2 separate regions of the Homo sapiens genome follow, and region 2 is linked to region 1. The links come from fine-mapping of genetic effects on gene expression. Tissue or cell type: whole blood. Region 1 holds a variant in brackets; the other region holds the start of a gene. All regions are shown on one strand. Distances are between the middles of the regions.

Region 1 (7,623 bases):
ACTAATCTCACTGAAAATGCATGAAAAGGAAGTGGGCTAGGGAAGCAAGGGGAACCATGACTAAATCATTCTGTTTCAGTCTCTGCATATTTTACTTTAACATAAATTAATCTAATAGTCTCCTTCTTTCAAGAACTACCATTTCTCTCCATCAGTATACTGACAAAAAATTGTCCTCCATAAAAATATGGGAAATGAGTATAAGTTTTAAGAAGTCTGATGTTCACAAGTATTTAATCATAAAATTTAATTTGCAAAAAAGGTGACTAACTTTCTGAATGTCCCTTTGGAGATTTTGATTAATGTCTTACTATGGAGGGCACAGCCTTTGAAATACCTTGTGATCTTGCATTACATGGGGTCAGGTGAGACTTCAATTTATCAGAGAGCCAAATTTCACTCTGACAATGAAAGTGACTCCTTGGGCACCTCATACTTTTCCTTTAAAAAGCCTCTGCTTTTTCTAAATTACATATTTAGCTCCTGTGTTACTCTTATCTCTTTTAATGCAGGGCTTGGCTCTAATGCAACTATCACAGGTGGACCAGGACCTGCTCTTGCCTGGCAAGAGCCTGTGGAACTTCAAATTCACACTTCAGGAAAATTTCATTTTCCCTCATATTAATTGTGATGTCAGACTCAAAATATTTCCTAGCTCCAAGTGAAATGTTTTCTTTTCCCCCCACATTCCCTCTCCCTAGTCCAGTATTATGGAACTAAAACTACAAATGCTGCTAAATCTCTTAAAATATGAGACATTGACATGGAGTATCTGCTGACATAGTTGGGTGATGTTTAAACAAATAATATAGCAATCTTCACTGAACTTCTCCTACCTGTAAAGCAATATGTGTTATAGGGGATACAGAGATATTTAGGGCCTAGCTGCATTTATAGTGTAATGGGATGATATATGTATAAGAACTTCTAGCATATAGTGTAAGGCAAGGCAAGATATGTGCCAAATCAATGTCATGATCAGCAAATTCTAATAGATGAACAAAATGTACAAATCCCTACAGGTAGAGTTTTGGAGATAGGTTCTGGTTTGAGTAAAGAAAGATGGGCAGGGTAGTTGGAATGGAGTTGGTAAGGGCATGAATAAGTTTACAGGTACAATGAATCAACACATTGGTTGGTGGAGCACGTGCTGGAGAAAAGTTTGGGACATTAGTCTGGAAATTTGATACTGACGCCAGTCTGTGGAAGGCAAACTGAGGATTGCAAAATAAGTTTCATGGTGATATAATACTACTGAAAATTTTTGAGCAGTTATGTGATATAGTGAATACATTAAGCTTTAGGAAGAGTATTATGGCACCTGTGTGAACCCTTCAACTAGTATATATGCTGTATGATGAAGGGACTGTCAGTCATGCTTCTCATGATATTCTATGACACATGGTACATGTCTAGTAAAATATATGTTGAGTAACTGAAAAAAAGAAGAAAATGCCCGGAGGAAGTGAATCAATAAATCTTGTAGTTTTCTTGGACCAGAGGAAATAAGCTTATGTTCCAGAACAATGGCTCCCAAATGGAGGTGATTTAGCCTCCCAAGAGACATTTAGCAACACTTGTAGACATTTTTTTTCACAACTCAGGGGATGTTACTGGTATCTGGAAGGTAAAAGGCAAGGATGATGCTAACTGTTCTACAAAACACAAAACAGCCTCTCAAGACAAAGAATTATCCATCCCCAAGTGTACATAGTGCCAAGGTTGAGTGGACCAGATCTAGAAGGAAGGCAGTCAAAAGAGAAAAAATAGAGATAAGACAAAGGATAGCTGTAAGAACTTGGTGACTGCTTTCATACAGAGGAGCAAAGGAGAACAAAGGCCAAAGATTACATGGGAATTCTCTTCTGGGTCACTCTGGAATCGTGACACTACAGGCAAAACTGGAGCCCAGAAAAGAGGCCAAATTGTTCATGTCTGTGTGTTGGTGAGTTTGGTTTAGATTTGCAGAATTTATGAAAAAGGTAAAATCTACTAATATAATTGTCTATTGGATGCTGGGGATGCTGGACTAGAAGTTAGGGGAAAAGTTAGGACTAATGTTCTAACTATGGTGGCTGACAAAGCTGATATGAGTCTTACCTTCATGGGGAGTTCAGTGGAGGAGGTGGGCATTAAATGGATAGTCTCTAGTATATCAGTATAATTGGAAATTGTAAGTTCTGTAAAAGAAATGTATAGTTTCTATGTGAAAGCATAACAGGCATCATCAGGACATATCTGTGGACTGGGAAATGCCTCTCTTAGCAAATGACATTTATACTGAACAATGAGTATGACTGCCACCAGGCAAAGAACAGGGAGAAAATATTGAAAGCGGTTGAAATGGCATGGGTGAAGGCTATGAGGCAGACAAAAATAGGTGGGTTTAACGAACAGAAGGAAGTGAATGAGCTGCAGAGAGAAAAGGGTGGGAAGTACAAGAGGTTGAAGAAATAGGCAGGGGATGAGCCCAGGGTTCATGCTAAAACTTCTGAATATAATCCAGTTGTAATAGGAAATGATTGAAAATTTTAAGCAGAGAACTGAGAAAATCCATTTTACATTTTTAAAAGAATGTATTTTATATTTTTACAATTTTAAAATTGGTTATTATTCATATATGGAGAATAAATTGGAGGATCCAAGAGTAGAAATAGGGAGATAAAGAGTTGGCTATTGCAGTTGGCAAGGCAAGAGATAACGGCAGCTTGGACTAAAGTGATAAATTGTTGGAAGAGAAATTTGAGAAAAGTCACATTATTCAAGTGACATTCTTGAAGCAGAATTCTTGGGGAGGTGATGGATTGGATAAGAAGAATAACAGAAAGGGGAGTATTCAGGTTGATAGCTCTATTAGTCTCCTGAGGCTGCTGTAACAAATGACCACAAACTGGGTGGCTTACAACAACTGAAATTTATCTTCTCACAGTTCCAAAGGGCAGAAATCCGAACTCCAGGTGTCAACAGGGCCACACTTCCACTGAAGGCTCTAGGAGGGAATTCTTCCTTGCTTCTTTCAGCTTCTAGTGGCTCCAGGCGTTCGTTGGCTTGTGGCTGGAAAACACCAATTTTCTCCTCTGTCTACACATAGTCTTCTCCTCTTCTCTCACTTAAATCTTTTTCAGCTTTTCTCCCATAAAAACATTTGTCATTGGATTTAGGATCTACCTGAATAACCGGGATGATATAATCTTGAGATATTTAATTACATCTGAAAAGACCCTTTTTCCAAATAAAGTCACATTCATGGTTCAGGGATATGGACATATCTTTTAGGGGACATATCCCTATTCACTCCACTACAATGGCTATGTATCTGGCTTTAATAATTGCGTAGGATAAGATTGAAGAAGAAGCAAAGTTTAGGGGAAGGATCAAGAGTTCAGTTTAGATACATTATATTGAGATGCCTGTGAAATAGTAAAAAGAAGCCGGATGTGGTGGCTCACGCCTGTAATCCCAGCACTTTGGGAGGCCAAGGCAGGTGGATCACTTGAGGTCAGGCCAGCCTGGCCAATATGGTGAAACCCTTTCTCTATGAAAAATAAAACAATCAGTCCAGCATGGTGGCGCATGCCTGTAGTCCCAGCTACTCGGAAGGCTGAGGCAGGATAATGGCACTCCAGCCTGGGTGACAAAGCAAGACTCTGTCTCAAAACAAAACAAAACAAATACTAAGGAGAGATGTCAAGTAGACAGTTTAATAAATAGTTCAGAAGAGGTTGATGTTTGTTATTCAAAGCCTGGGATGAGTGAGATTGCTGAGGGCAATTGTTTAGTGAGAAAATAAACCACGATTGTTATTTGAAAATTCCAAGTTTGAGACATATAGTAGAAGATTCGGAGCTAGCAAAAGAGTTCAAAAATGAACTGCCAGAGATGTGGAAGTGAAAAGAAGAGACTGGAGTACTTGAATGGTGGTGAGTAAAGGTGAACAATCAGGTTTATGCAAAGTTTCATCAGGTACGTATGTAAGGAAAGAAAATTGAGAGTATTTTAAGAAAAGAGGGGTTATTCCTAAAGAGGGAAAATTTAGCATATTCAGCATATTCATATTCAGCAATTGTAATAGTGATTACAACTACCAATAGAAAGAGGCAAGATTAGATTCTTGACTATTGAACCCTGGTGTATATCTGTATTTTGATATCAAAATTAGTCATTAAAAAGGAGAAAGAGAAATCACAGGGGTGCAATAGCAATAACGTAGAACTCCTAAATTTAAGGGAAGTAAAGTTAACTTCTACATATACTGGTAAAATGTTAAAATT[G/A]GATTTCTAAGGAGAATGATGAAATAAATGTGAATAACATTAAAGTTAAGTGTGAAACTTGGAGCTGCTCTTCAAGTTAATTACATATCCTAAAAGTGGGTGTTTTATTATGAAAATATGTTCCAGACAAGAACTCCAGTAACTAGAGTATCATGATGGGCTGAACACTGGAACCTTGGGATTCTCTACTTCTCTGCTATGAACTTGCTGTGTGACTTTGGGTAATTCATTTCACTTTTCTGAGCCTGACTCAGTTTCTGCCCCCATAAATAGTTTTGAGCTACATAATCTCTGAAGTTCTCTTGAGTTCTAGATATGATGACTCAATGTCACTTTCAGGCCTTCTATTTGGCTGTATTTAGATGTATTTCTATGAGGCCCTTTCAAGTTCTAAGGCTCAGAGGCATAGGAATCTGTTAGCCTGACACACAGACTCAGGCTGGATGGTGAGCTTTGTTCTTTCCTCTGGCTATGGCCATAGGCACTGGAACAATGTCCATTGCCATGGTCATTCTCCCTTCTCATTGGAGCAAAGCCTCTTCCAAGTCACAAGCTAGGTTTTGAGTACTTTCTGGATTTTCGTTATTTCACAATCTTTATCTTGATCATCAGGAAGCTTCTTCTTTTAAATCCTCAAAACATGAAAGTTCTGATTAGACCATGTACATTTCCTGATGTACATCTACGCACTCACATGCTAATGGATGCTACCCTCTCAGTTCCCATGGATCTTGCACACGCCCTTTAGAGAATGGCTACTCTCTTCCATGACACAAAGATAACTTACCCAAAAGGGCAACTCCTTATAGTTCTCAAGGTGATCTAGTGCCTTTTGTTAGCATGCAGAATCAAAAACTATAATTTTCATCAGAGCATCTTGATTTAGAGAAGTTTTACCCGAGGGTTTAAGTTTGTTTAGGAGATCATGATTTCTCTTAAATTGTGGGTGTGTATGTGAAAATGTGCTTTCTTTAAAAAAGAGAACGATTTACTTTCATCAGATCCTCAAGTAAGTCACAGCCCATTAAATATTAAGAACCACTGTTATAGGTTTCCTCTAGCCAGGACACCAATTCTTACTTCAGCCAACCGTGGAAAAGTTAAGGGTGCTACATGACAGTAGGTATGGCTACTTAAGCTGAAGGAAAATCTGTGAGACAGTATGTGGCCTATTCAGTAAAATATTATATTTCATATGCCATAAGCATGGAAAGGAATAAGCTCTTACATATTTCTATTTCTAGAACATTAGTTCCTTTACGAGGTAACCATCTTAGGCAAGGTTGTTATTAGTTTCCAAGGAATCAGTGGAGAGGCTCATGACAAAGGGAAGAAGGGGCTGCTTCTGCTTACAGAGAAAATTATGTGGAATTTGGGATTTTCATATACTTTCATAATCTGACTCCTCCCATTTAACTGTTTATTTATTTATTTATTTATTTATTGAGATGGAGTCTCACTCTGTTGCCCAGGCTGGAGTGCAGTGGCACCATCTTGGCTCACTGCAACCTCCGCCTCCCAGGTTCAAGCGATTCTCCCGCCTCAACCTCCCACGTAGCTGGGATTACAGGCGCCCACCACCACGCCCGGCTAATGTTTGTATTTTTGTAGAGACAGGGTTTCACCATGTTGGCCAGGCTGGTCTCGAACTCCTGACCTCAGGTGATCTGCCCTTGGCCTCCCAAAGTGCTGGGATTACAGGAGTGAGCCACCGCCTCCAGCCTAAATGAACCACTTCTGAGACTGCAAAAATTGTCTCACTGTTTTTATGCGTTATGACACAGTATTTTTCAGAAGGACAATTATTAAAAGGCATGAAAAGACTATTTGAAAAGGTTAAAGAAATAGGTTTGTTTTAATAAGGAGAGAATGATAAACAGCCAATATGAATGTTTACATGTATGAGAGAATACAGGGAATTAAAGCAGATGTTTTTGTTTTCAACTGATATAAAAAATTAGGAGTTAGTCTTTCATTTTAAAATGGAGGCATATGTTTGACTTAGAGAAAGTGTTGACTGTAGAATGTTACTAAAGGAGTTTGTAGAATCTCCTTTTTCAGATATTTTTAAAGAATAGAAAATGGTATCGCTTGACTTGGGCAGATTCTTGCCTAATGTGTCCTTTCTAAAATACAACCACAGACATCAGTATCATTTATGGTAGAGAATGGGGAGGCTTACTCTCCGAATTCATGCAACAAACATTTATGGAGCCTCATGATGTACCAGGCACTAGGAATTAAACTTCCAATTCAATGTCCCCATGCAAACAGATCTTCAGATAGATAGGCAGATAGACAGTGGAAAGGGAATGTGGTAAATGCCATGTAGGGAAGGGGAAAGACTGGCCCAGTAATTATGACCACCTTTAACTGAGTCCAGGCACTGTCAGGCAGTGTCCAGGCACAGTGTCAAGCACTCCATGTACATTATTTTATTTAGTGCTCACAACAACCCTATGGAATATATACTATCATTTGCCAGCTATTATCCATGAAGAAACTAAGGTTAAGGAGAGATTAAATAACTTGCCCAAGATCACGCAGACAGCAAATTGCAGAGATTGTTTTGACTGTAGAGTTGAAGTTCTTAAACCCTGGGCCAGCCAGTCAGAATCTGAGAGGAGACAAGTAAGGTTGGTGAGGGGAATGGGAATTGAAAGGGATGAGGAAAGCCTTCTGAAGGAGAAGCCATTTCAATGGAGTTTTGAATGAGCAGGAGTTGGCCAGGTGTATTTTATCCGGGGGGCTGGTAGTGGAGGAGAAGACATGTTTGCCAGATAAAGCAGCTGTGGAAGGGACTGAATTTCAGTCACTTGTTATTTAGCTAAAGACATGGTCATTCTAAAGTCCCTACCGAGTTCTTGCACACTGATACCAGGGTTTTCAATGAGTAGTGCTCAGTTTATAAGAGTTAAGAAGTCACCATTTTTTTTTCTTAGTCCAAATGAAAATAGTGCTTCATCTGAGATCTGCGTATGAATGGCTCTGCCTGTCTTTGGTCAACCCATTTTCCACTCCCTTTACTTGTCCCTTCTTTCCCTCCGGCCTCTAACTCTCTTAGTCCTTCCTTCTTTTCTCTGAAATGAAGCTCTCTCCTACCCATAGAGAACACTTCCTCCTCTGGTTCACCAGGAAGTTTTTTTGGGCACAGCTTCATGGCCTCTCACAGTGATGGATCCTTATTTAAAGCCTGAAATCGATTTCCCCATGGCATCACAATATCTATGGCCATGCTTCCCTCTCAAACATGTGCATTTACTTTTTTTTGGAAGGAGAGAGGAGCAAAATTCATAATTCTTTTCTTCTTTCAGGCCTTTTAATAGTTCCAGTTCTTCTCTGGTCAATCAAT
Region 2 (7,623 bases), 190 kb after region 1:
AAATGAAGAGCTGGAGCTTAATTTTTCTAATTCACACAGCACTGTTTCAACATTGTCTTATTCAGTGGTTCTCAGCCTGGGAAAGAAGGAGAAAGGTGATTTTGCCCCCCAGAGGACATTTGGCAACATTTGGAAACATTTTGGTTGTCATGACTGGGAGTGTTATAGGTATCTAGTGGATAGATGCCAAGGATGTTGCTAAACATCCTACAATGCACTGGACAGTCTCTCAAGGAAAAATGATCTGGCCCAAAATGCCAACAGGGTTGAGATTGAGAAACTCTGGTCTAATCTGAACACTCTGAATATTATTAAAACATATGGTGAGATCAAGAATTTATTACTGCATTTTCGTTAATACCAATTTGCTCAAAGGCAGTTTGAAAAACAGACCCTGACTAAAATTGCATGTGCGTTATACAGGGAAAAAAATATGACACATTTGTGATTTGAAAAGGAAAAAAAGCTGAAGGGAAAAAATTAGATATTTTTATTCATAAGAGCATTGCCATACAATTTTCAATGCTCCAGAAAAATAACCTTCTTCCATTGACACTGTGCTGAAAGAAGTGAGTAACAAAATGGTTATAAACTATCCTTCTCACAAATTCTAATCTATTATCAGACTGTTATTTCTAAAATATATTAATACACCATCTAAAAAACAGCCCTCTTATCAGAAGCTATGATACATAATAAGTCAGAAGATAAATGCACCAGTAGGAATTTATTATAATTTTTTTAATTTCTCTGGATTACAGGGCACGTAAACTCTGTAGGAGGTGCTTATTGGAGAGTAATTCTGTGATCCAGAAGACACTAGAATGTGTTCAGCCATTTAGCACCCACCCACCCCCTTTCTTTTCCCTTTCCTGGTAAATTTTCCTTTATGTTCATAAGGACAGATGCCATTGCTGTGGGAATCACTCTGGTTTAAGCCTCTTGAGAAAAACAGTAGCTAACTATATTAGTCCGTTCTCACACTGCTATAAAGAAATACCTGAGACTGGGTAATCTATAAAGAAAAGAGGTTTAGTTGGCTCACAGTTCCACTAGCTGTACAGGAAGCATTATGATGGCATCTGCTCAGCTTCTGGGGAGGCCTCAGGAAACTTACAATCATGGCGGAAGGTAAACAGGGAGTATCACCTCACGTGGCCACAGAAGGAGCCAAAGAAAGGTGAGGGGGAGGTGCCACACACTTTTGAAGGACGAGATCTAATGAGAACTCACTCACTATACAGTACCAACTGCGGGGTCGGGGGGCAGGGGTGGCAGTGGGGGTGGTTGCTAAACCATTCCTAAGAACTCTGCCCCCATGATCTAATCTCTACCTCCCACCAAGCCCCACCTCCAACACTGGGGATTACAGTTCCACATGAGATTCGGGCAGGGACACAAATCCAAGCCATATCACTAACCTTATCTAAATACTGGCCAATAGGATAAGCAAAATCATTTTTATAGCTTCCTTCAAAAAATCTTATGTATTAAAATGTTGAAATGTATAAGAATTTCATCAAAATAAGAACCTCACCAGATCTGACCCAAGGGAGAGAAGATTGTTCAATAAAAAATTACAAATGGATGAATAAATGAATCCTCTCCTTTCAAGTTCTGTGCTCCATACAACAAATCTAGATGGGTCTCATTTAGATGGGATTTAGAGACACCTTTCTTAAATACCTATCATTTTACGAATGAAGCTGTTGTCTAAAGAGTCCTCTTGGCCACTTCCTGAAAACAAATCAATTATTTGTGATAACTCTCAAATGTCCTAATAATCCCATGGAAAATGTAAATGTAATGAGGACCAAGAATTATAAGGTAAGAAGTGCTAATGTCAGATTTTTACCCACTACATAAGCCCACTCTTGTACTAGGGCAGTGACTTTCTTCTTTGGGTGAGACCTTGAAATCTGGGATTATAATTTTGAATTATAATTATAAAATGGTATTTGGCTGTAAATTATCTCCTTTTTTTTTCTGTTCCTCACAGTTGATATTATGGATTCCCATAAGGATTCATGTCTTCTATTCACTTTAATGAACAGTTGTTGGGCAACAATTCTAGAAGAGTTCCAATTCTCATCAGGAGAATGGACAAGGTGGAGAAGCAGAGAAAATGCAATGAGTAGAATGTCTAAGTCATCACTTTGGAATTGACTGAACATAAATAAAAATGAGAAAGATACGTAAAAAAGAAGGGAATGGGTAAGCAGGGTGATGTCTGGGAGAGGAGGGGCTCCATAGCCATGAGAGTCAACTCTGTAACACCCTATAGGGTTACAACACTGCCCTTCATATACTGAGGTAGCAGCAGGGAAACTTTTTAATTATTAGAAATATTGAACTTTGCCTCCCACCCCCAAACATTTTTCTCATTCAGTTCCTGTTCTTTTTTATTTCTGTAATTTTTACTGTTTCAAAAATGATCTTTTTTCTTTCGGAAGAAGCAATTCTTCAAATCCAGTTCACATAAGGGGATTTGATATGTTCAACAAGCTCCAAATACACTGTATCCAGCAATACCTACTACATGCCTACTTTGAGCTCTGAGCAACCTGCACCTCAAGCCTAGTTCTCATTGTTTTGCTTTTGGCAAATTTTCACTAAGTGCCCTTCCTCCCCAAACACACGTATATGTCTACCAGACCCTAAAGCCCTTTATGAACATGCAAACTCCTCCCTTCTGAAAACCTTTGCGTGAGTGGTCAGCAGGCTAATTCATCCATTGCAATGTGGCTTTGTGTTAGGGTTCTGTTTCCGTGCTGCCTGCAAGATAATCACAGATGTGACTGCATCTTAGAAGTTCCTGAATCTTTCAAGACAGTCTGGTTCACAAGAAAATTAAAAGGTGGAGGTCGGGCGCGGTGGCTCACGCCTGCAATCCCAGCACTTTGGGAGGCCGAGGCGGGCGGATCACCTGAGGTTGGGAGTTCGAAACCAGCCTGACCAACATGGGGAAACCCCGTCTCTGCTAAAAATACAAAATTAGCCAGGCGTGGTGGTGCATGCCTGTAATCCCAGCTACTCGGGAGGCTGAGGCAGGAGAATCGCTTGAACCCGGGAGGCAGAGGTTGCGATGAGCCGAGATCGTGCCATTGCACTCCAGCCTGGGCAACAAGAGCGAAACTCTGCCACACACACACAAACACACACACACACACACACACGGTGTAGTTTAGGAAGTAAAAAAAAAAAAAAAAAAAAAATCAGATCTCCCCTCACACCTCAGATCTGAAGGCACAAACTCTAGGGCCAGGGCGTTCGCCTACCCAACTCCACATGCACTTGCAGGTCACCTAGCACTCAGGTACCTAGCACTCAGGTACATTGTGGCTCCTTACCTCTCACGACAGCAGCAACAACGTTGATTGGAAGTTTATCACTGTGTGTTACGGGCCATGGGCCATGTGTGTTAGAATTTTATGTGAAATTAACATTTAATTCTCACGGACACCCCTGAAACAGATGCCACAGCCCCCATTTTGCCAACGAGGCAGCTGAGGTTCCCAGAGGCTCAATACCAGCACCATGAGCCGCAGCACGCAAGGCAAACACAGCCGGAGGTGAGCACATACCTGCTTCGCACCCCATGCGCCTAACCACAAGGTTCCCTCCCTCCAGGAAGGCCGTTGTCTTCCCTGGGACGACTTGCCAGCTCTGAGGCATGACAGTACGGGCCCCCAGAAGGGTGACCAGGAGGCCCTCCTCGTCCCAGCTGCCGGCGTCGCCGCCCACTGCAGGGCCCGGGCTGTGACTCGTGGGGACGGTTCCCTGCGCCCCGGCGGGGGAGGTGGGCGGGGAGGGGCGGCGGGGCGCCGGGGCGGGGCTCGGGACGGCCGGGCTGGGAGCTGGAGCCCACAGCGGGAAGCGGCCGCCGCCCGGGCCTCGCAGGGCTAGGCGAGGCGAGGGGGGGCGGGGCCGGGCGCTACGGGAAGGGGAGGCCGCGCGGACCGGGAGCCGCACCGCGCCAGCCGGGCTGCAGCGGCCGCGCACCAAGGCTGCGATGGGGCTGGAGACGGAGAAGGCGGACGTACAGCTCTTCATGGACGACGACTCCTACAGCCACCACAGCGGCCTCGAGTACGCCGACCCCGAGAAGTTCGCGGACTCGGACCAGGACCGGGATCCCCACCGGCTCAACTCGCATCTCAAGGTGAAGCCCGGGGCGGGCGGGCCCAAGTCCCCGCTGAGGCCGGGAGGTGCGGGCGCCCCTCAGCCCCGCCCTAACCCGTCCCACCATTGCTACCGGGTCGGCCCCGCAGGGTCTGAGACCCGCACCCTTCCCCGGTCCCACCCGTCACCAGGCCGCCCGCGTAGCCAGGAATTCTTAGCCAGGTTCCTGTGCGCCCACCGTGACCCTAAGAGAAGAGGCGGACGCCCTGGCACGTCCTTCCCTCCTGCTTCCCCCGCCCAAAGCGCTCCCGGTTCCCGGGGCGTCAGGTTGGCTGACAGTTCGGGGTCCCTGCGTCCTGTCTCCTCAGCTGGGCTTCGAGGATGTGATCGCAGAGCCGGTGACTACGCACTCCTTTGACAAAGTGTGGATCTGCAGCCATGCCCTCTTTGAAATCAGCAAATACGTAATGTACAAGTTCCTGACGGTGTTCCTGGCCATTCCCCTGGCCTTCATTGCGGGAATTCTCTTTGCCACCCTCAGCTGTCTGCACATCTGGTGAGACGGGGCACACCGGGTGGACCGGCTTTCTGAAACATGGGCATATTCTCCGCCACCTGCCCCCTACTCTCCTCTTATCCCAGGCCGGCGTCAGGAGGAGGAACGCGCATCAGTTCCCAAGCAGTAGGAAGAACTGGAAGGCCTTGAAAGGCAATGCGCTTCCTTTAGAATAACAGTTTGGGCTTGGAGTTTCAACAGGAGAAAGAATGTCGGTCTTTCCTGGGGTGTGATTTTCCTTGCATACATAAGGCTGGGCTGAGTGTGGAGGCGGGTACCTGGAAGCCACACTTCTTACCACAGGCTGCTCTCGGGGCCCTGTTGTGACTCGTACCTGCGGTTCTGGGCAGGACTCTTCTTTCTTTCATTGCCTTTTATTCAGTCACTGCCTGTGCTTGGGGTAAAACAAAAGTGATCTCTGAGCAGAATGCCGCTGACAGTAGAATTGGATGAGGATGTCAGACCTGGTTAAGCAGTAGTGTGGAGGGGCTGCTTCAACTTTGCCCCTGGCAGATGGCAAGGATGGGACCCAGAGGAAAGGGAGGTGTGTGCAGTTAAGGCGAGGGTCCCCCCCAGTACAAACGAATGAAAACTCCAGCTGCGGGATAATGAATGAGAAGGCCTCCAAATTACTTTTTCACTGATGAAACACAAATGGAAGTGGCATATAATTAAAGGGGAAAGAAATATGGAAGCCCACTGTATATTGATAGGATATTTTGAGTAACTCTATTCATACTCAAAATGTGTCCTAAACTGTAGAGAACTTTCTTAAGCATCTTTTAAATTTTTTATGGAAAATGTCATATTTTACCAATAAATGTTGTTGTGTTAGAAAATATCCACTTTAATCTGAGAGGAAGAATATTCAGATCATCCCCAGTATCACAACAGTTGTCACGCTAGTGCTTCAGGTTAGTCCTGGTGAAAGGTATAACCCAAGGTACCTCCGTGTCTTTCTTACACCTTTTATGATATTGCCACACCCTGATAAATACTCGGTGTTCATTGTTAGAAGTTACCAATTTATCCTTTATTTCTCTATACCACCTGAATCTTAATTTATTTAGTCAGTTAGCTAGCTAGTTAGTTCAACAAACTTTAAATTGATTGAGTGCTTAGTTTGTGCTGGGCACTGGGCCAGGATGAATGAGAGATAGGGTCTGCCTTCAGCTTACTCACAGCCTTATCAGGGCAGCTGGCTAGGTACAGAGATGGACGCTGAGAAAACACAGTCAACTGACAAAGAGGGAGGAACAGACAAGGCTTTGAAGAGTGAAAGGAGTCGAAAAAGACTTTGAAAGGATAAATGAAAATTCACCAAATACGTAAAGGATACACAAAGAACACCAATTTAATTTTATCACTAAAGGTTGTAAACAATTAAACTATGTTGAAGGTGCCAAGATTGCCAGGGAAATGAAAATGTTGCCTTAGTACATGATCAGCTTCATGAAGGTCAAATGGATAGTTATATTCTGACATTTGCACTTGAATTTTTTTTAAGATCCCTGAGTTGGCACATAAGATTTGGGATTCCCAATTAACTAAAACTAATCATCTAACCTCTATGTCAGTTTTCTCACTTTCAAAACTGTGAAAAACTGAGTGACCGCATAGCATATTGTGAAATGCTGACTATGAAGCTATTTGGAAATGTGAAGTACCATATTTATAGTCAACAAAGCTAGGCTTCCCAAAGCTTTTGTGAAAGAATTTGAAAAAAAAAAGTTTCTCATTTACTAAGTGGTGGAAAGATATAAGTAAAACTACAATTAACCAAGCAATGCCTCTCTCCAGCTGGCTCTTCTGAGAATGGGAGGTGTTTTTGTATAGTGCTTCAATTGGTGAATCATCAATGCACCTTTTTTTAGCCACATAAAATGTATTATTTAATATTATTTAACTTCAGCTTGTTTTTTTAACTATATTTATGTGGGGCATTAATATTTAACTGTAAAACATTTGTCACCAGGCAGCTGTGATTGCAAGTAGAGGAGTAATTTCAAACAAGAATGCTTAAAAGTTAGCTATGCCTTGATAAAATAGGTTTATCATTAATAGATTGCATTCCCATGACATGATAAGACCAGATCAAGGACAGACCTTACAGAATTGCAAACCCATTTGGGCAAGCTTTTTTTGTTTTGTTTTCTTTTTATATATATTTTTTAAAGCAGGGGCTTGTGTATTGTTTTTACCAAAAAGTTAGTGGTGACCAAAGCTAGGAAAATATGCAGTAGTGGAACTTTGAACCATGTCACAATATTAAAACAGGTCAGATTTTAGATCCTTTAAACAAACAATCAACAACAATAAAACACAGAAGTCTGGTGGTGTTGGATCCTAGACCAGAAGTACGGGCCATTAGGAATCAGTGAATTAGTTGGATTCCATACTACAGTCAGACAGAGATAGCTGCTGTTTGTTAAGCACAGGTTATTGGTCATAAGTGGATCATAACCAAAGAAATGTGGCTGGAGCACCCATATCCCTTATTTTTGCTGGAATGCAAAGCAAACAAATGCCCAACTGATGGAAATGCGATAGTAGCAATCTCATTTCTAGAAGACAGTTTTCATACAGTAAATTGCTATGAATGCAGTCTGCATGACTCTACAATTACTACAACACTAAATAAAAGTCTCTATCCTATGGCCTTATTATCCAAGGATATATATTATCCAAGGAATATATAACCTTACATATATTAATATATATAATATATATATATTATAAGATTTACTTAAGAAGTATTGGCCACATTCAGCCTCAACCAAATTTTGGGTCAATCAGAACTGCCTGGAGTTTCAGAAGCTAAACTATTTGTGATGTTGAGAACCCAACTTAAGTTTGATGTCGGAGGATCATTAGATTCTCTGCTCCAAAATGAGGGAACACAAGTAAACAAAAATAAAATCCAAATGAGTTAACAACACCCTATA

The links. PIP is the estimated chance that this variant, and not a neighbour inherited with it, causes the effect.
Region 2: CAV2 starts here. The variant in region 1 is fine-mapped to the expression of CAV2 in whole blood (INTERVAL, PIP 0.94).

Annotation. Positions count from the first base shown.
Region 1 is chr7:116,307,421-116,315,043 of GRCh38, forward strand. The region is part of intron 3 of LOC105375463 (a long non-coding RNA gene); the gene reads left to right. Among named protein-coding and RNA genes, the nearest start is that of TES, 100 kb to the left of the region's middle. The variant G/A (reference allele first, on the strand shown) is at 4,272.
Region 2 is chr7:116,495,770-116,503,392 of GRCh38, forward strand. CAV2 (caveolin 2) reads left to right here and starts at 3,969. Exons shown (of 3, transcript NM_001233.5): 1 at 3,969-4,162; 2 at 4,491-4,678. The coding sequence starts at 4,013. It overlaps CAV2-DT (CAV2 divergent transcript), which reads right to left and starts at 3,747. Exons shown (of 3, transcript NR_188012.1): 1 at 3,585-3,747. RefSeq lists enhancers at 2,984-3,485, 3,532-3,671 and silencers at 3,852-3,941, 5,726-6,020.